Regions from separate parts of the Homo sapiens genome. Here region 2 is linked to region 1. Evidence: fine-mapped expression QTL. A gene starts in region 1. The other region holds a variant in brackets. All regions are shown on one strand. Distances are from middle to middle.

Region 1 (9,816 bases):
CTGTGCCTCCTAACCAGCTCGTACTGGAAGCCTGTGGTCCTCCGGCCGATATCCTGCTGCGGCGTGGCCTCCACGAACAGGCCGCCCTGCTCCAGGCCAAAACACTGCACCCGGCCGGGCCTGCCGTCCCCGTCTGGTACCAGCAGTCTCAGTTCTCCAGTTTTTTCCAAATAAATATTGGCCCCCGAGGAGTCCGTGAAGGACCTGATGCACACGGTCAGGTGCCGGGCAGGCGAGAAGGTGTTGGGCCGCAGGTTAACGATGAGAGCACCTGTTGGGTACATCCACTCCACGGCACCCGCCGCACAGCGCAGATACACCTGCTCCACCTCCTTCCTGTGTGCCTCGTGCGTCAGCCCGCTGCAGAGGAGAGACACTGTCAGCCAGGCCCGGAGCTCCCGTCACACACCCCACCCGCACCCACAGAGAGTCAGTGAGGACGATACCCGCTCCAAATGATGGCGGCTCCTGGACCCACCCGCTGCCGGCCACAGGTGCCACACGGACCCCTGCCCGTGAGGCAGGCCGGCGCCATCTCCGCCCTTCGGCACAAGGGCCCCACCCAGTTCCTTCCAGTGCACCTGCACCAAGAGCCATGGTGGGGCGGGGCCGAGCTCCCGGGAGTGCAGGCGGTGCTTGTCCCCAGGCCCTCCAGACACCCTCCAACACTCAAGAGTCTGCGCCTCTGCTGCCGTAGCGTCAAACACCAATCTCTGCGATGTCCCTGAATCAGGGTGGCTGGAGGTGCTGGGGCAGTGGGATGGAGCCCCAGGGAAGGGATGGATTCCTCCAGAATATCACGGAGTATCACAGGAATGCCAGCAGGCCCTGTGTACCAACCCTGGTTCCAGATGACCACGAGGGCTGGGACGCTAGAGGTAAAGCGAAGGTGGGGCCCCACCACGTGTGAAGGAGGAGCCCTGGGATGCAACCTGCCCAGAGAGCAGCTTTTAAGTTAATCCAGAGTGTTGGCAGTTTGGGGGGAAGGAGGTTGTAGATGAGTTTTGTCTTTTAGCACCTCATTAAGCATAGATGTTTGTACATTTCTCAAAGTAATGACTTGACCGTTTTCTGCAAGCCTGAAGACCCTGCACTGCCGACGGTATTTGTAAATATAAGCTATCATTACAGCAAGACTCACCACAAAAGCGAGGCGAACTTCCTCCACAGGGTGAGTAGTGTGTGAGTAGCAAGCTAAGTTCACCCTCATACATGCTAAACAGAAAAAAATGAAGTGTGCTACACTCTTGGAGAGGCAGGTCCTGAGTAGAAACAGTTATATTTTCAAGAAACTGAAACATCAAAACCCTCACGCTTCTCAACACTTTAACGTAAATGCCAGCTCGTGGCTAACAGCCACGTCATAACCAAGTGGGCCTGGAACTAACCCGGTGACTTCAACTAAGTGTTTTATTACGCAGATCTCAGACAGGTTCACCCACATTCTTAGGATTTTTATGTGAAATAAGCAATGCTGTTTCCAGAGCCCTGGCCTGAGCGAGTCACCAGAAACCCTTTCTGCAGCAGAGAAAATGCATCACATATGGTTTGCATTTACCGCTGGTGACTCACACTCTGGGCCCCCAAACCTCACTCTTCATAGGCTGCAGGCCACATCAGAGGGTGGTGTCGAGGGTGCACCCCTCCTCACCCTCTCCCCACCCCGACAAGGCCCCAGGTCACGAGTGGCCAGGCCTAGCCGGCTGCCAGGATCACACACCCAGAACAGACTCACAAATTACAGCCCATAAAGCTCACACAAGCTCATCTAACACGTGTGTGGGCAAGGGCACGATGATCGTGCTGTGTGGAAACTGGACTCGGTGAGTGGCTGATACACTCAGCTACAGTCAGCTCTCTTCTTATGCAGCCTCATCGTCACGTCTCTCCCTCCCGTCTCTGGCATCGAGGCCACTGTCCTCCTGCCCGTGCTCAGGCACCGAGCCTCGACCCTCTCTCCACATACACCGTCCTGACACGTTGCCTCCCTCTCGGGGAGTCCTGAAGGTCGAGGGAGCGGGCTCTGGTCACCTCTGACAGCACTGCCTTCATCTGAGCAGGCGAGGGGAACAGCCACAACTCAGCTGGGGACAGGCGGCCAACCCACCTCTGCCCAGGAGGAGGCCGACTTGAGCCTGGGGGCCGTCCTGGCCTAGCACATGCTACCCGCATCTGGTGGGCACGCCTGGCTCCACCCACTCAGAAGACACTGGGCAAAAAGAGGAAGAGGACAAAATGAAGGTGGACACAGAAGAAAGAAGACACCCGGCTACCCCGGCCTTCACCTGACGTCTTCTCAGCGCACTCAGACGGGTCTGCACCCAGCACAGGGCCTGCTCCCCTCTCCTCTCACATTCTCCCGAAACATCCAGACCAACGGGACTCCAACCAGACCCGCTGACGTAGGGATTTTCACATTAAAATCAGTAGCACATGATGCGCAAGACCCGTGTAGACAAAAAAAGTTAAACGATGCATCCTTCAGCCTGGGACCCAGCAGACCTCGGCACGAAGTCCGAGACTCATGGTCTGTGCTGGTTCCTACCAGAAAATCGAGTGCCTCAAATCTCTCACCTCCAAATATCCAGCACCTCAGCAAACCTGAAAACAGAGTCTGTTTATGCAAAATTGCTGGCATTGCAAAAATGTGACCTATCTTTAATGGTCATGGATGAGGGCATTTTGTGATTTTCACGTGAGATGCAGGTGACACAGTTCTGCTGTGATAAAACTGAAGCGTGCAGACAAAACCGTGGTTCGTTCAACTTTAGGAAACTGACAAGGCTGATCTGATGTTGGATCAACAGACTGAACAGATACACTTTTAAAAGTCAGCAAGGGTTACCACCCAGGTGGACATGCTTGTGGGGCACCTTCATGGAAAGGAGGGCAAATCCCAAGTGGATAAAGGGACTCACTGAAGGGGGGCGCAGGTGCACTGGAGGGTTGTTGAGGCACCAGCCCACACACCACAACTCTGGGTCACCAGGACAAAATGCCCGGCTCCTGTATGAAAGTCAGGAAGGGCTTCGAACCCACTGGCAGGTTAACTTTCCTTTCCCCACCTTGCAGGAGAGACGAACCAGGTGTGACCGCACCTGCGATGCCCGGGCTGACAGCAAGTGGGAAAGTTCATGGTCCACATTTATGAGCACTGGCTGATAAAGACGGGGCGCTGGTCCCGCCTCCCCCCACGGAAGGGAGGTTTCATCATCTCCTACTTAACTGCTTAGAAGAAACACCCAGCAACAGAGGCCGTCGATGCAGTGGCCAGTGTCATGAGGGGCAACTTTCCAGCTATCGGGGGATGAGAATCCACCCAGCACACCAGCGCTCGCTCCACCCTGTGCTTCGTCAGGACAGCTGGTAAAAAGTCACAAACACCGGAGGGTAGCAGGCAGGCCAGCGCACTCCGGTTTCCACAGCGAGTCTCTGTCACTGATTCGTGACGTGTGTGGATCAACGGGGCAGTGACCACAACAAAAGGAAGTCTCACTTACGCCCCAGAAACACAGCCGGGCCCCGTGTCCCCTCCAGATCACACCCGCAGCTCCAGCAGCCCCCACAGCTGCCCTCTGCCAGGCTCTGCAGGTGTGTGTGTGTTGGGGGGGGTCCCCTGTGTGTGTGTGTGGGGGGGTCCCCTCTGGGGAGTCTGAGGCCAGGACTGGCAACGATGGCGAAGAGGGCCTCCAGGTAGACAGGAGGGTGCGCAGGTCCTGGAGGGCAAAGCACTCCTGTCCCGCTGCTGTCACCTGCCTGGAGGAGCCGCCCGCCCCTGGAGGTGGAGGGGTGGCCTCCCCGCCACCCTCGGCTGCCTACCGCGCCCTCCCTTCGGGCTCCGGGAGGCGCCCCCTCCTACCGGGCACACAGTCCCCTGACACCCTGAAAAGGGCGCCGGCCCCTTCTCGACACACTCGGCCTGGGTGGCGGGGGCGGCGTTTCTGGCTTCGGTCTGCTGGAGCGGAACGCCCCGGGCCTCGGTTCGGGGATGCACCGACCCGCCGGGCAGAGGCAGCGAGCCGGGGCTGAATCACTCCGCGGGGGCAGGGGCGGCCCCAGAAGAGCCGTCGGCCTCGGAGGCTCCCGGCGCCGGCGTTCCCGGCCGACCCCCCCCAGACCTCCATCCGCCCGCGGCCCCGCTCGGCCGAGAAGGGAGGCGGCCGCTCCCGGGACAGCCGGGCACCGCCCACGGCCCTCGGGGCGACTCTGCCCCCCAGCGCCACGCCCCTTCCCCCGGGGAGGCTCCGCCGGGGGCGCTGGGGGGCGACTGTGGCTTCGCGGGGACCCGGAACGGAGGCTGCGGCTGCGGGGAGACCTGCGCCCGCCCCGCGGACACCACCCGCCCCGCACCGGCTCTGCCCCGACCTTCTCGGAAAACAGCTTCGCTCGACATCACCGCGTGACTCGGCCCGCGGCGGGGGCGGGGGCGGGGGCGGGGGCCGCGCCGAGGGGAAGCGGGACCCAGGCCCGGGCCAGCCCGGCCACGGCTCTCCGGGAGGCGCGCGTCACTCGGGTCCCCGCGCATCTGCGAACCCCGGAACTGGCGACTGCGAGGCTCGCGCAGGGCGGGTTCGGCCGCGGTGCCCTCGGCGCCCTGGGCTTCGCGTGGGAGCGGCGGCGGCTCCCGAGGGGCAGTCGCGGTCGGCGCCGCTCTCGGCGGCCACGCTTGAGTCAAAAAAAAAAAAAAAAAAAAAAAGTCCTCGGCCGCCACCGCGGGTGGGGGGGGGGGGGGTCGCCCAGCGCAGCGCGCGCCGCGGCCAAGGGCGGCCTGACCTTCACGGGGCAGGGGCGGGGGGCCCGGCCGGAGCCACACTCGGCCCGGCTCACAGGTGCCCGCCCGCGGCTCCCCGAGACGGAAGTGGCCCCCGCTGCGGTCCGCGCCCGATCCCCGAAACCGCCGCTCCCTCCCGCGGCCGTCCCTTCCCGCTCTGGCCCGGGGCGGCCTCGGGGCGCGCAACTCCCGGAGCCTGCCAGGAAGGGCCCGAGGACCGACCCCCGCCTGCCCCCGGGATGGGGTCGCGGGACCGGCGGCCCCCGAGGCTCGGACACGCGCGGAGCCGGGACCCACCCGGCCGCGCTGCAGGCGCGCCTCCCCCGGGCGTCCTCCGGGCCGGGAACCGGGACGCCGCGGGCTCTTTTGTTCTAGAACCGGGGGCGGGGGACAGCGGGCACCGGACTGGGCCTGGAGAGCGGCCCCCGGAGCCCCTGCCCCGCGCCCGCCCCCGGCCGCGCCCCCGCACGCTCGGCCGGCCCGGGACGGGAGGGGACGCGAGGGGAGGGGGCCGGGCCGGGGTCGCGCCGCGCACACTCACCTCCCCTTCCAGCTGCACCGGTCGCTGGAGTACTGCGCGCCCGCGCCGCCCAGCAGCCCGGCCAGGAGCAGGAGCAGCAGCGGGAGCGGCGGCGGGGGCGGGCCCGGGGCGGGGGGTCGCGGCCACGGCTGCCCCGCGCGCCCCCAGGCCGCCCGCGCCGCGCCCCGCATGCTCTGGCGCCGGCTCCGCCGCCCGGCCCCGCGTCCGCGACCCCCGGAGCAGACCCCGGAGCCGGCGAGCCGGGCGGGGGCGGGGCGGGCTTCGAGTCCGGGTGGTCACGTCGCGCGCCCCCCGCGTCCTCCGCGCGGCCGCCCGCCCATCCCGGCCCGCTGGAGCCGCGCGCAGAGCTCCGCGCCCGCCGCCGCCGCCGAGCCTCTGAAGTTGGCGAGTCCGAGTCCGCCCGGCCGGGCTCAGCTGGGGGGTGGGGCCCACCCGCCGCCCCGCCCCGCCCCCGACCCCGCCCCCGACCCCGCCCCGCGCCGGAAACTCCTCCCGGGGCGCCCGGCCGGACGCGCAGACACCGAGTCAGCAGCGAATCGGGGGCGCGGGCGCCGGGGCGGGGGGCGCTGCAGGAGGAGGGGGCCGCGCCGGGCGGCGAGCGGGGTCCGGAGGGAAGAGCCCGGCCTGGAAAGCGGAGTCCGGGGCCGGAGGGGTTGCAAGGCGAGGGCGGGGCGGAAACCCGAGACCCCCAAGTAGTGGCCGACGCGAGCCGCGGTCGCCCCCCGCAGACCCCCGCGAGGCGGTGCCGGGGCCGCATCCTGCGCCCCATCCTGCGCCCCATCCTGCGGGCAGCCCCGGCGCGGAGCGGTAAAGGAGGCTCCCGGCCCCGCCGGTTCTGGGTCCCCCGCGCCTCGCCAGCGGGCGGTGATCAGGGGCGATCCGGGCGCCCCGCGTTCCGCAGAGTTGGTGCCTCGGGAGTTCCCGGCTCCCTCCTGACCGGGGGGGAGGCCCGGCGGTGAGCCCGGCTTCCCTCCCTCCTCCCGGAGGACGTGCAGCCGCCGCGCCGGGGCCTCTGCCGAGCGCTGCCCACTCCTCGCTCCGGATACGCGGGGCCGGGTGGTTCTTGGGGTGGGGACGTCCTGCGCATGGTGGGATGTTGGCAGCACCCTGGCCCCCGCACTCTGGGTATCAGTAGCAACCCCCGCCCCAGCTTTGACAACCTAAACTCTCTGCAGATTTGGCCAAATCCCGCCCCCACCCCGTGCCCGCGGGGCAGAATCACCTGCGGAGCGTCCTGCTCGAGTGTGTTCCTCGGAGTCGGCGCCTTCCCCAGGTGGTCACCGCGGCCACCACGTGCCTGACCCAGTGGGGGGGACAGCGGAGACCCCCGCCCGGACTGGGGAGGCCCTAGAGACTCAGGCCAGAGAAGGGGAGCCAGAGGGTGCCGAGGGCCCCCCAGGCAGGAGAGGGCGGAGCTGGCCCGCCCGGCGGTCCCCGCTGCGATGGCAAAGCTGGCTTCTGTGTGCTGCGGGTCAGTGGCCCTGCCCGAGACGCCTGGTGTCAGTTCCAGAGCCGAGCGCAGCATCCAGCGGTGGGGAAGCTTGGCCTTGTCCCCTTTTCCAGCCAAGATACCTTCCAGGAGGACTTGCGAACGACCTGTGCAAGTCTGAATAACTGGGTTGTGACTACCAGAGGAGGCGGGGAGAGGGCTTTGAAAATTGTGAGTCTGCAGGGACGGAAGTCACCGGCAAAGGCAGGTGGAGCCCAGCCCCCAGCCCAGGAAAGCTGGGACAAGGGTGAGGGTCTGAAGAACTGGAAGGCGATGACAGTGACCACTGAAGGTAGTTTCATTGTAAGGATCTGTTCAGAGCACCCACCCCATCGAAAGCCTGGAGCCAGGACCTTGCCCAGCACATCAAGTGACATCACCCTGAGGCTCAAGGTCTGGTGGAGGTGCATTTCGGAGCTTGGAGACTGCCCCACCCACCCCCGTCTGCTCTAGGAGTGCACCTCCCCCCACCCCCATCACTGCAGGTACCAGGGTGCCCAGTGGAAAGGGACCTGCTGTGGAAAGGGACCTGCTGTGGAAAGGGACCTGCGGCTTCACACCTGTGCGCAGCAACTGCTTTCCATGCCCACCAAGCATAAGATAGCAGCCCCCCCAGGCCCGGTCCACCCTTGAAGGGCCACATGGCCTATCAGGGTCCAGATCATCACACCACGGAAGAGGCAGGGCAGTGCTGGGATCTCTTGAGTTATAGATGCGGACATGGGGAACTCAGGACCTGCCGTGACCTGCTCAGGGTCTCAGAGCCCCTGGTGGCTGCTAGACCGAAGGGGAGAGGCCGCCTCTGGTCAGCAGGCAGCTGGTTCCAGCCTAGGCTGGGGCAGAGATCTGCCACCTGGCAGGATGCCCAGCCTCCTGTGCCCAGCGGGCTGTCCTAAGACTGGGATCGTACGATGGTGAGTATGGGACCCACGTGTACTTTTCAAAACCCGTAGAAAATACAGCACAAGAGTGAATCCTGATGGAGGCTTGAGACATTTGTAATAATAACGGATCAATATTGGTTCTTTGACTGTCACACGCCTACACCCTAATGAGAGAAGGTAATCATAAGAGAAACTGGGTCAGGGAGAGGGTGTGTGGGGGACCTCTACCATCTGCTTGGTGTTTCTGTAAACCTAAAACATTAAGTCTGCTAATTAAAACAAAACAAAACTAGAGTAAGAATGCTTGCTGGCCAGTATTCTCGGAAGAAGCTAATCTGTCTTGGGAAAGGAGCCTGGCCCTTTCCACCCTGGGGCTGTGGTTCCCCAAGCTGTTCCCTTGAGGAGGTTCATGCCCCAGAGACATTGGGTGCTCCTGGGCACCTCTGCTGACCCCTGTCCTGGCCCAGCGAGGCCACCTACAGGTGAGACGTCCCCTGTAGACGGGGTTCCTGGTGTCAGGAGGTATCAGGCTCCTAGAGGATGCAGGCTGAGGTGGTCAAGGCTGTCTGGGGGTGTTCCCAGCCACTGGTACACTGCCCCTTGTACCACCAGACCCCGAGAGGCCGATTATGAACCAAAAGGATCCCAGCTGGTCATGGTGTGTGGCCCTCCCCCTGGTCCTCTGGGAGGGTCTGCAAGGAAAGGGCCTTGGGTGTGTTTGTCCCTGGATGTCTGGGAAGGGACTGCTTCCCAGTGAGCATGTCACGGGGTTAGACCCAGGAAGGGGCCACAGCATCATCCCACCCACCCACTCGTGGGAAGGAGCTGGTCTTCGCAGCTTTGCGTGAAGCTCTGATACTTCCTACCTGAGTCGGAACGTTGAGGCTGAGCCGTGGAATCGGAGAGCTCCAGAACCCACCAGGATCACGCCTGCCCATTCCCTCTACCGGCGGGCCCTGCAGTGATGCTTCTGCATCCTGGGAGATGGCAGCTAAGGGACCTGGGCCAGGGGGGCCTGTGGCCCAACCGTAGGTCTACATCAACCCTCTCTCTTTCCTCATCTATCCATTCCCTCGAGAAACAGCTCTCAGAAGCCTCCTGGGCAGACGTCCGTGAAAAAAATTCTGGGTGCACCCTGGACAGTCCTTCTGTGCCTCACCAGGGTCTGAGGCCTCAGAAAGCAGGACGTGGCCTCCCATGTCCGAGGACCACGACCCACTGTTAGGATCGAGTGACCTCGGCAGGGTCACCTCTGTGTATTTGACCCGGGAGTTTTTATCGCGTGCATTGCAGGGACCCAGCACCTGGGAATTTGCTGGGGTGGAGGGCTGTGGGACTGGACCCCTTTCTCGGCCTTTCCTATGCCGGGTGCCTACAGGCCCTGTGGGGTGGTGGACGGACCTGGCTCGGACGTCAGCCCCCAGCTCTGGGTCACAGACATGGTGGGGTTGGAGTCTGTTTCTGAGCCTCAGTTACCTGCAAAGTGGATCTGTTCTTGATTCCCAGGGCGTCGTAGGGTTTACGATGTCAGGATTCAACGCCACGTCCCCAGGTGGGGGCTGATTCTCACCTGTTCAAGGCACCACCGGGCTGTCATCAGGCCTTGGGGCCCTCATGGGGCTGGGTGGGGGGAACCCCTCCCGCCGTGCTCCCCACAGCTGCGAGTTCTCTGAGCCACTGGCACAACCCGGTGGACTTTACTGCTTTTATTTTTGGCCCAGTCTTGAGGTTTTCAAATGTGTGTTGACGGCCAATGTGCTGCCCAAGATGACCAGTCACCTGAATCCACTCACTAAAGAAACAGCTCCTCCCAGAGTAGCTGGATTCCTCCAGAAAAACATCACACGGTTTCCCCAAGCGCGTCCATGAAATTTTCTCTTTCAGCATTTGAAAAATACTGAAGAACGTCGCAGTCTGTCGTTCACGTGAGCACAGTTCATCCCACGGCCCCGCCCAACCACCACCTCCCAAGTCATTTGCCACCCGTTTCCCTCCCAGGCCATTTTCGCCAACCTTCTCGTAATTATCGTAATTGTGGTTGAATGATACATGGAGAGCCTGTGCTTGTAACTCAACTTCAATGAGCAACGTGTAATTACTACACGAAACAGCCACGGATGCCAGCCAGCCT
Region 2 (9,816 bases), 22 kb after region 1:
GGCCCCAGAGCCAGGTCCTGGGAGTTAGGAGTTGGTCAGGGTACCCCAGGCCCTGGCGGTCGTGAGGGCAGGGCCCAGCCCCAACTGTGCTGGATGCCGTCTGAACTGTGCAGGGGCCTGAGATTTTACTTTCGGGCTAACAAGCCTGCCTGTTTCGTGGGTGCTGGCAGGAAGCACCAGACTGCTGGGGTCAGAGATAGAGGATCTTAATCACTCACAGCAAAAGCAGAACCAGAGGGTCAGCACCTTGAGTGGGCTCCCAAGCCCCTTCCCCAGCAGCGATGTGCGGGGGCTCAGACAGATGCTGCCCACACAGGGGACTGCCCACAGGAGAGGCCCTCAGCTCTGGGAAGCCGCTGCTGTACAGCAGGCAGACAGTGTGCCAGCTCTTCGTCCCAGAGAGAGGCATCGGTCACCGTGCACACACCCGTGCACACCCCCCTGAGAAACGACCCCGGGGCAGCCATTGGAGTTTGCATTCCTGGCCCAGCAAGATGGGCAGGAGCAAGGGATCCATGGAGGAGCGTCTTCCAGGAAACACTGGGGAAGCTTTGACACAGCCTCAGACCGTGGGGTTCAGGGAAGCAGCTGGGGGCTGAGTGCTGGCCCTCCCCGGCACGGAATACCGTACAGGCCTCGGGTTTCTGGGTGGCTGCTGGTGCAGTTCCCCATCAGCAGGTGTGGGTCCTACCTGCCTTTATGGCCCTGGTGGCCTGTGGAGACGCCTGGTTGAGGGATGGGGGCTGATGGCTCCTCCCAGGGTGGACCGTTGGGCTCCCCTCCCTGCCTTCCCCACGCTCTCACTGCCCCTCCCTGCCCCAGAGGGGAGACTGCTGGGTGGGTCCCACGGCCAGAGCTCAGCCCTCGTGCTCCGCCTTTCCCCAGCACCGCACACCTGCCTCAGGAGGGGGCCGTGCACCCTCCGGGCCTTCTGCCACCAGACCCAGTTGTGCCCAATGATGCTGTGAGCGTCTGTGCTGAGTCTTCATCAGGAAAATGTGGGAAAGACATTAAAATGGGTGAGGAGGTTTCTGGGCATCCTTTCAGTGGGGGGCCAGGCGAACCCCTGGGTTCTCTGGTGCTGCAGTGATCGGCGCCTTCCTCATCTTTAATGGAGCTGTGAGACAGTTCCCTGCACACCAGAAAGGTGACGGCCACACACAGGAGCCCACGGAGGTGCAAGGACACTTGTCAGTGGAGACACGGCTGATTTCCACCAATGGAAGAGAGAATCCAAAGGGGAGGTTTCAGGCCCTGTGGATATTGGCTGGTTTGGTGATGACTTGGGGGATGCGTTCCAAGCACTCCAGTGGATGCCTGAAACCTTGGATAGTGTTGAACCCTGTATAGACTATGTTTTGTCCTATATGTACAGCCCTTTGATAAAGTTTAATTTGTAAAATAGGCACAGTAAGAGATTAACAATCACCAATCATAAACAGCAATTACAACAATCTATGGTGATAAAAATTATGTGAATGTGGGATCTCCCTCTCTCTCAAGGTATCTTACTGTGCTGTACTCACCTGTTTTCTGCAGTTGAGCACAGACAACTCAAGTCGGGGATACGGGGGACGACTGTATTAGCAAGTTCGTTTCAGCTCGATTGCCTAAACCTGTGGATTTTCCTTTGAACCAGTTTTAATATCTTCCTGCTTCCCTCATGAATTAATAAGTTAAATAAAACTTTTGACTTAACACGTGTATTAGTCCATTCTCGCATCGCTATCCAGAAATACCTGAGTCTGGGCAATTTATTTATTTATTTATTTATTTATTTATTTATTTTATTATTATTATTTGTTGAGATGGAGTCTCGCTCTGCTGCCCAGGCTGGAGTGCAGTGGCGGGATCTCGGCTCACTGCAAGCTCCGCCTCCCGGGTTCACACCATTCTCCTGCCTCAGCCTCCCGAGTAGCTGGGACCACAGGCGCCCGCCACCACGCCCGGCTAATTTTTTGTATTTTTAGTAGAGACGGGGTTTCACCGTGTTAGCCAGGATGTTCTCGATCTCCTGACCTCGTGATCTGCCTGCCTCGGTCTCAACAAAGTGCTGGGATTACAGGCGTGAGCCACCGTGCCCGGCCGAGTCTGGGTAATTTATAAAGAAAAGAGGTTGAACTGGCTCCGGGTCCCACAGGCTGTACAGGAAGCGTGGTGGCTTCTGCTTCTGAGGAGGCCTCGGGGAGCTTCAACTCGCGGCGGAAGGCGAAGCTGGAGCAAGTGTCTCCCACGGCAGGAGGAGGAGGAAAAGAGAGGGGGAAGGGGCCACACACGTTTAAACAACCAGATCGCAAGAGAACTCTGTCCCAGGACAGCACCAAGGGGATGGTGCTGAACCCTTCATGAAGGGTCCACCCGCGATCCGGTCACCTCCCACGCGGCCGCCTCTGACACGGGGGATCCCAGTTCGACATGAGGTTTGGGTGAGGACACAGATCCAAACCTTATCAATGTGTGTTCATTCTAGATTTGTGTGTCATGATTTTACTTTTTTGAATATTATCTTTTAACCCTTCATTGTCTGATACAACAGAGTCTCACCAATTAAACTTTGAGAGACCCATTTATGAATCCACACCAGGCCCTTGTTTATGAAGGATATTATGAGACATTTAGTCAGTCATTGAACGATACTTACTGAGCATCTGCCGTGTGCCAGCAGTGAGGGGAGCAGTCTTCTCCGCATGGGGTCATCAGAGGCTTCTGAAACCGACTGGGAAGTCAGAGAAGATCCCAGAGGAGGCGATGCTGGAGGCTGGCTTTGAAGGACAAGGAGGAATTCACTTTAGGGTCCTACCTTAATGAGGGGGTGTTGAGAAGGACAGGGTCTGGGTAGCTGGAACCACCCACAAAAGGGCAGCCATGCTGTCCTGAAAGGGTGGGGATATGGACAGCTGTCACCAGGTGAGCCTGGATTCAATCTGCATTTTGTTTGTTTGTTTTTGAGACAGAGTCTTGCTATGTTGCCCAGGCTAGAGTGCAGTGGTGAGATCTCAGCTTGCTGCAACTTCTGCCTCTCGGGTTCAAGCAATTCTTGTGCCTCGGCCTCCCAAGAAGCTGGGATTACAGTTAGCCGCCACCACATCCCACTAGTTTTTATACATTTAGTAGAGACGGGGTTTTACCATGTTGGCCAGGCTAGTCTCCAACTTCTGACTTCATGTGATCCACCTGCTTCGGCCTCCCAAAGTGCTGGGATTACAGGCATGAGCCGCCGCACCCGGCCAGATCTGCATTTTGGAAAGATGCCCCTGTTCACTGTGGATGCGCAAGAGGGTGAGGCAGGGAGACCCGGGGTGGACGTGCCAGGCAGGCCTGGCCCCGCAGGGACCGTGACATGGGGCAGTAGAGGTGGGTTTTAAGGTGGTGGATCTGCAGGTGCTGGGTGTGCCAGGTGGCAGTGGCTGGAAGTCTCCAGGCCTGTCCTGGTGTGGGACGCCCAGGAGGTACCTCAGGTGTGTGGGGCAGGTGTTGGGCATTGGGGGCAGGTGTTGGGCATTGGGAGCAGGGTTGTGCCTCCTACCTGGGGGCTGGGGGTGCCTGGGCCAAATCCGCCAGAACCGGGACCTAAGAGTTCAGAGGGCATCAGAAAAACGCAAAGACCCACTGGCACCCCAGAAAAACGCAAAGACCCACTGGCACCCCAGAAAAATGCAAAGACCCACTGGCACCAGGCAGGTCATACTCCATGAATTTGTACATTCAGGCTTTTGGTACCCAAAGTTGGTGTTTCCATGGCGACAGGGCCCGAATGGCCATTGAACTCTCCTCTAGCCTGCAAGAGCCAGTGTGGGTCTCAGGCAGCTGACAGCCTCTGGAGGGTGCATGGACGGGCTGAGCGGGGGCATCTTCCTTGCTGGGCACAGCACAGGTGACCAGGCCGGGGTGCAGCTGCACGGCCGCACTGACCACTGAGCAGGTTCTGAAGGGCCGTCTACGTATGCGCTGGGGACAGGACCCTCCCCCATTAATGGTGCCCCGGCAGCCTGCTGTGAGCCCCGCCTTCCACAGCCACATCAGACTCACATGGTCCTCTTTGGGTCACCAGGGACTTTGGGCTGAGTCCTGCACCTTTAGGAGCTGAATAACCCCATTTGTTCTCAGGACCTGGCCCGGGTTCCCCTGCCCCAGCCTCTCCGGCCCCTCTCATGCCCCATGTGGGCTCTTCGCTCTCCCTGTGTAGACCACACCCACCACCCCACATTAGAGCCACGGACTCATCTTTCCCTCCAGACTACGGCAGGCACCACAGCGAGAAATGCGCTTTCTATCACGGTCCAGCACACACTGGCATAGAACGTGCAAAACCAACACAAGCTTTACAAATCAATGCAGCTCTTACTATATGGGACAGACTCACACTTCATCTTTAGGAATTGCCAGTCAGAGCCCAGTGTACTGACCCCATGACCCCTGGTATACTGGCCACAACCTGCAATTTGAAAACTACCCTAGGCCCTGGCACTGAGCCCTTCCCAGAGTGGATGCCCAGGAACGCTTGCGGATTCCATCCAGTCACGGGGACGGCTGGGCTGCCAGCTCCTTCGGTGATCCACGTCAACACCACCCTTGCCTCCCTGGCAACTTGGCGGGCCAGGTGCACGCGGCGGCTTCTCAGTCCAGCGTTCATGTCTGTGCACTGACCGTGTGAAGCCGCGGCACCGAGCACCCCTCAGTCAGCAGTGCAATGTGGGGAGCGCTGGTGCGGCTCCCCAGGCCGGCCAGGTGTCTCGCCTGCATC[A/G]GCCGACTTGACTCCACTTTGCCATGAGGAATGGATGCCTCTGTGGACACCAGGGCTGGCATGCCAAGGCCACTTGGCCAGGACGTGGCAGAGCTGAGGGCAGGTCCCGGTGTGGCCCCTGGACTGGCTTCACGCACTGTCCAGATGTGGCTTCTCCCACAGGCTGGCATCACACCTGCTTCTCGGCAGCTGTCTTCCACGTGCGCTGCAGGGCCAGCTGGGGAGGACATCTGAGGGAGGCCGAGGCAGAGCGGGGGCGGCTCCACCTTCGACAGTGACATCAGGGGCACCACAGGGCCCTCACAAGGTCTCATGCAAGACGCAGAGGTGCCCTGGAATGTCCTGCTTCCCATTTATCCTCAGCATTCACTCAGGCACCAGTCGAGCCCAGCCCTTTCTCCCACGTGTGAAAAATGTTATGTTATCTCATGGGAGTGAGTTCCATAAATCACGCTTGGAACCCCCATGAGACGTCTTCCGCCCCTGTTTAGGAGGAGAGTGTCTAATTGAACACGGAACGTTGTTCAGCACAGGCCTTTCCCGTCCACGTCAGCTGCTAACAACACAGGTGCCCCTGCATTGAGCATAACTGGGGCCGCACCCACTCGGCGTCCGCAGGCACCTGCCATCCACTGTAGATTTCCCCAAGACTTGGAGAGCTGTGGGCTTAGGTCACCTCCAAATCCACCTTGAGTGCTGAGTGTGCAGGAGGGCAGCTCCGGCTTGCGGGGCCGTCCCCTGGAGGTGAGGCTGCTGTCTCATTGTGCATCTCCTCCTCCTGCCAACCTGAGAGCTGGCTCCTCTGAGTCAGCCTGTCCCACCCTCCGGGTCCTAACTCCAATTCCTGCAGGGTGGCCTCTGCAGTGAGAAGAGCCTCAGGCCTCGGGACACCTGTGGGATCCTGCAGTCACCACCCCAGGGCCAGGACAGCAGAAGCCCCGAGGCGCAGCTCCAGCTGACAACAAGCAGGGGCTCCTCACTGCTCGGATGGAGAATTCTCCAGGCTTGTGGAGGTCCAGGGTCCAGCCCTCGATGTGGACCCTCAGCAGAGCACGCTGGTCCTGGCCCCCTCCCCGCTCCTTCCTGGCCCCTGCCCCAGCCTCCTGGGCGTGAAACGCTCCATGTGCAAGCCCCTGACTCCGGCTCTGCGTTCTGGGCTCAGGCGGGACGGGGGAATCCAAGACAAACATGGTCCCTAGTACTTGATGCTCACCTAGAATCCACAGCGAGCATCTGCCCGGCTGATGACGGAACGGTTCTGGTGACAGGAACCTCCCCCTTCCTGTAGGCCCAGGGAAGGAGGGCAGGCTGTGGCTCCAGGTCAGTCATGTGGCACTGGGCTTTAACGAGGTAATATTTGCTTGGAAGTTTGGAGACGCTCCGTCAGTCGGATCTCCTTCTCTTTCCAGAAGGCCTGACGGTGCAGGTGGGTGGAGCCAACACTGACTGCGTGCTGACTTGGGCAAGGCGCTGGGTAGGGCTTGGTCCCTCCAAGGGGCCACATGAGGCCGTCCCTTCCCTCTGACGTGTAATAGAATTTCACGGATCTGCAGAACGCCGTCACCTCAACTTCTCTGTCCAGGCTCTGCAATTCACAGGCTTGACTTTCCTTTCGTAGGATCAGCCCGTACCCCCCGGAGCTCCAGGCCGGTACCCCCACCCCTGGCTCAGAATTATCCTCCTGAATTGACTCTGGGTTTCCCTGTGCAACTAGAATCCTACAATCCCCAACAGGTCTGAATCCCAGGAATGTGGGCGGCTGAAAAATGGAACTCGAGGGACCACATCCGCACTTAAGTCTACTGTCCTGAAGACTTTTTCATTTATTTTTTTGTAGATTACTTTTTTAAAAAGCATGGGCTGCAACTCCTTAATAAGTCATTAAATCCACATGGTGAGTCACAGCCTTTAAATAGCTGAGACAGAGTAGGAGAGATGACCTCAGTGCACACATCGCCGAACAGCCAGGCTGCCCTCACGGGCTGCTTTATTATGGGGGTGCTATGGTCACCACGTGCAGAGTCTCCTACAGTCTCGAGCGACCCTGCCCTCCAGGCAGCACCCACTGCCTAGGGGAGGTCGAACCAGGTCTGTTGAGGTTCATCCCCTCTGGAGACTTGGACACACGAAGGTCTAGGGGATCAGGCTGTTGAAGGAACCTGTTGGGCTCTTGTCTTTAAAGCTTGAACTCAGCCCTCACTAGCTGCACTCACATCAGAATCATTCTTACTGGGGACCCAGTGTCCCCCAAGTCTAACACCGTCCGTGCGGACCTGCAGGGAACCTCTGTCTCCCCACCCAGCACCGAGTCTAACACCATCTGTGCGGACCTGCAGGGAACCTCTGTCTCCCCACCCAGCACTGAGTCTAACACCGTCCGTGCGGACCTGCAGGGAACCTCTGTCTCCCCACCCAGCACCGAGTCTAACACCGTCCGTGCGGACCTGCAGGGAACCTCCCCACCCAGCACCGAGTCTAACACTGTCTGTGGGGACCTGCAGGGAACCTCTGTCTCCCCACCCAGCACCGAGTCTAACACCGTCCGTGCGGACCTGCAGGGAACCTCCCCACCCAGCACCGAGTCTAACACTGTCTGTGGGGACCTGCAGGGAACCTGTCTCCCCACCCAGCACCGAGTCTAACACCGTCCGTGCGGACCTGCAGGGAACCTCCCCACCCAGCACCGAGTTTAACACCGTCCGTGCGGACCTGCAGGGAACCTCCCCACCCAGCACCCAGTCTAACACCGTCCGTGCGGACCTGCAGGGAACCTCTGTCAACCCACCCAGCACCGAGTCTAACACCGTCCGTGCGGACCTGCAGGGAACCTCCCCACCCAGCACCGAGTCTAACACCGTCCGTGCGGACCTGCTGGGAACCTCCCCACCCAGCACCGAGTCTAACACTGTCCGTGGGGACCTGCAGGGAACCTCTGTCTCCCCACCCAGCACCGAGTCTAACACCGTCCGTGCGGACCTGCAGGGAACCTCTGTCTCCCCACCCAGCACCGAGTCTAACACCGTCCGTGCGGACCTGCAGGGAACCTCTGTCTCCCCACCCAGCACCGAGTCTAACACCGTCCGTGCGGACCTGCAGGGAACCTCTGTCTCCCCACCCAGCACTGAGTCTAACACTGTCTGTGGGGACCTGCAGGGAACCTCTGTCTCCCCACCCAGCACTGAAGGCTGCTGAGAAGTTCTTCGATTTGGAGACCTGATGTCTTGGTCCATTTGTGCTGCTGTAACAAAATACCTCTGACCATGTGATTGATAAACAGTAGAAATGTATTGCACACAGTTGTAGAGGCTGAGAAGTCCAGGATCCAGGCGCCAGCAGACTTGGTGTTTGGTGACAGCCTGTTCCCCAGAGATGGTACCTTCTATGTGTCCTCACGTGGAGGAAGGGACAGAAGGGCTCCTTCAAGTCTCGTTGAAGGGCACTCGTCCGTCATGAGAGGACAGCCCTCACGGCCCAGTCACCTCCTTAAAGCTCCATCTCCTAACCACATCGCCTTGGGGGTTAGGTGTCAACATATGGTTTGGGGGGACACACACATTGAGACCACAGCACCTACTCCAGGCCCCTGGCAACTGGTACTGAGTCCTCTGAATATAGCCAGTATTCGCCAAAACCTTTTGCACAAACAACAATTAAAAATAAAGAAAACTGGCTATCTGCAATGGCTCTCACTTGTAATCCCAGCAGTTTGGGAGGCCAAGAGCTCGAGACCAGTCTGGGCAACAGCAAGACCCCATCTCTACAAAAATAAAATAAAATAAATAAATACAACTGCCCACTCAGTGAACCCAAAGCTGTGGGGCGTTTTGTGTCACTTCCTCTGCTGGTGCCCACGTGACGTCAATCATCTTTCATCAGCACCTCACTTCCCTCTGAACGAAGACCACACGATCTCCACCCGGCCAGCTCTGAGGCCCCAGGTCCTCCTTCCTGTCTCTCTCCAGGGTACAGTGTCAGTGCCTTCTGTCCGGGCCCTCTGCTGACCTCTCCCCGAGGATCTTCCTACTGCGAGGGCAGTGATCTCAGGCCCCACCACCCTTGGATTTCAGGACCCCACCTCTGCAACCCTGCATTTCTGAAACGCACCTTGGCACTTTGAATGTTCCCAAAAAGGAGATTCTAATCAAATTTGAATTAGGGGGAAGTCAGTGAAAAGCAAATTTCTGGCACCAGGAAATGTACAGGAAGGAAGGTGAGAGGCAAGCCCAGTTCTGGACACCATGTGCTGTGGAGGGGCAGAAGCCATCTGTGACCCCTGACCTCTGGCCCTTACCACCTACCTTATCATGAGCCTACGGCGCATTCTGGCAGCTACAGGGCTACTTTTTACTGAGTCCTTTACAATGAAATGATTCCTAGTACCCCAACCTCTGGAGAACATGAAGTCCCTGGAAGCAAATTCTCAGATAGCTTTTGCTGAACGGTAAATAAGGCTGCATTTTCACTCATGTGACTTAAGCAGTCCACTTGTAAAACAGGCTTTGCAAACAAGGAGGCAATTTAAGGGAAAAAAAACCATCTATGAAGTGATGCTTAACAGAAGTTTGGCTTTGTTGTAACGGTTAATTGACAGAATGATTTGCATTTAATCTTAGTTTTGGACAGCCAAGGATTTGTCCAGGAAGGGCTGCTTACAGCCATGCTCATTAATTGTGAATTACTCATTACTTCAGATCAGCTGGAACAAATCCCAAGCGGGCTTAATCTCTGTGTGCAGGCAGCCCAGGGCTAATGGCAGCAGTCCTTTTTATTGACCCCCACGGCCCTGTCCCCAGTCAACCTCCTCCAAGCAGGGAGTTTCCAGAGGCCTCACAGCCGCCTGGGAGACCCCTCATGGCAGGCTGCTCCCTTGACAAGTTCAGAACTGCTGGGGTTCCCGGCCGCGCGTTCAGGACTCAAATCTGGAGATATCCGCTCTGTGCTCCTCAAGTATAAGGTTAGATAGGGATGGGGCCTGGCCTGTGTTCCTGGCAGGGAAGGCCACCTCTGAGCTCCCCCAGAGCCCGGCCGCCTTCTCCGGGTTCCCAGCCCTGCAGTTCCCAAGGCTGCATGCG

Evidence for each region. PIP is the estimated chance that this variant, and not a neighbour inherited with it, causes the effect.
Region 2: its variant is fine-mapped to the expression of METRNL in whole blood (TOPMed, PIP 0.98).

The regions. Positions count from the first base shown.
Region 1 is chr17:83,075,482-83,085,297 of GRCh38, reverse strand. It overlaps METRNL (meteorin like, glial cell differentiation regulator), which reads right to left and starts at 5,689. Exons shown (of 4, transcript NM_001004431.3): 1 at 5,313-5,689; 2 at 1-360. The coding sequence starts at 5,482. RefSeq lists enhancers at 1-525, 1,425-1,983, 1,984-2,543, 3,137-3,719 and silencers at 3,211-3,505, 3,501-3,720.
Region 2 is chr17:83,053,102-83,062,917 of GRCh38, reverse strand. LOC124904094 reads right to left here. Exons shown (of 4, transcript XR_007065967.1): 2 at 3,527-3,570; 3 at 3,129-3,233; 4 at 1,753-2,762. Among named protein-coding and RNA genes, the nearest start is that of QTGAL, 6.2 kb to the right of the region's middle. The variant A/G (reference allele first, on the strand shown) is at 4,745.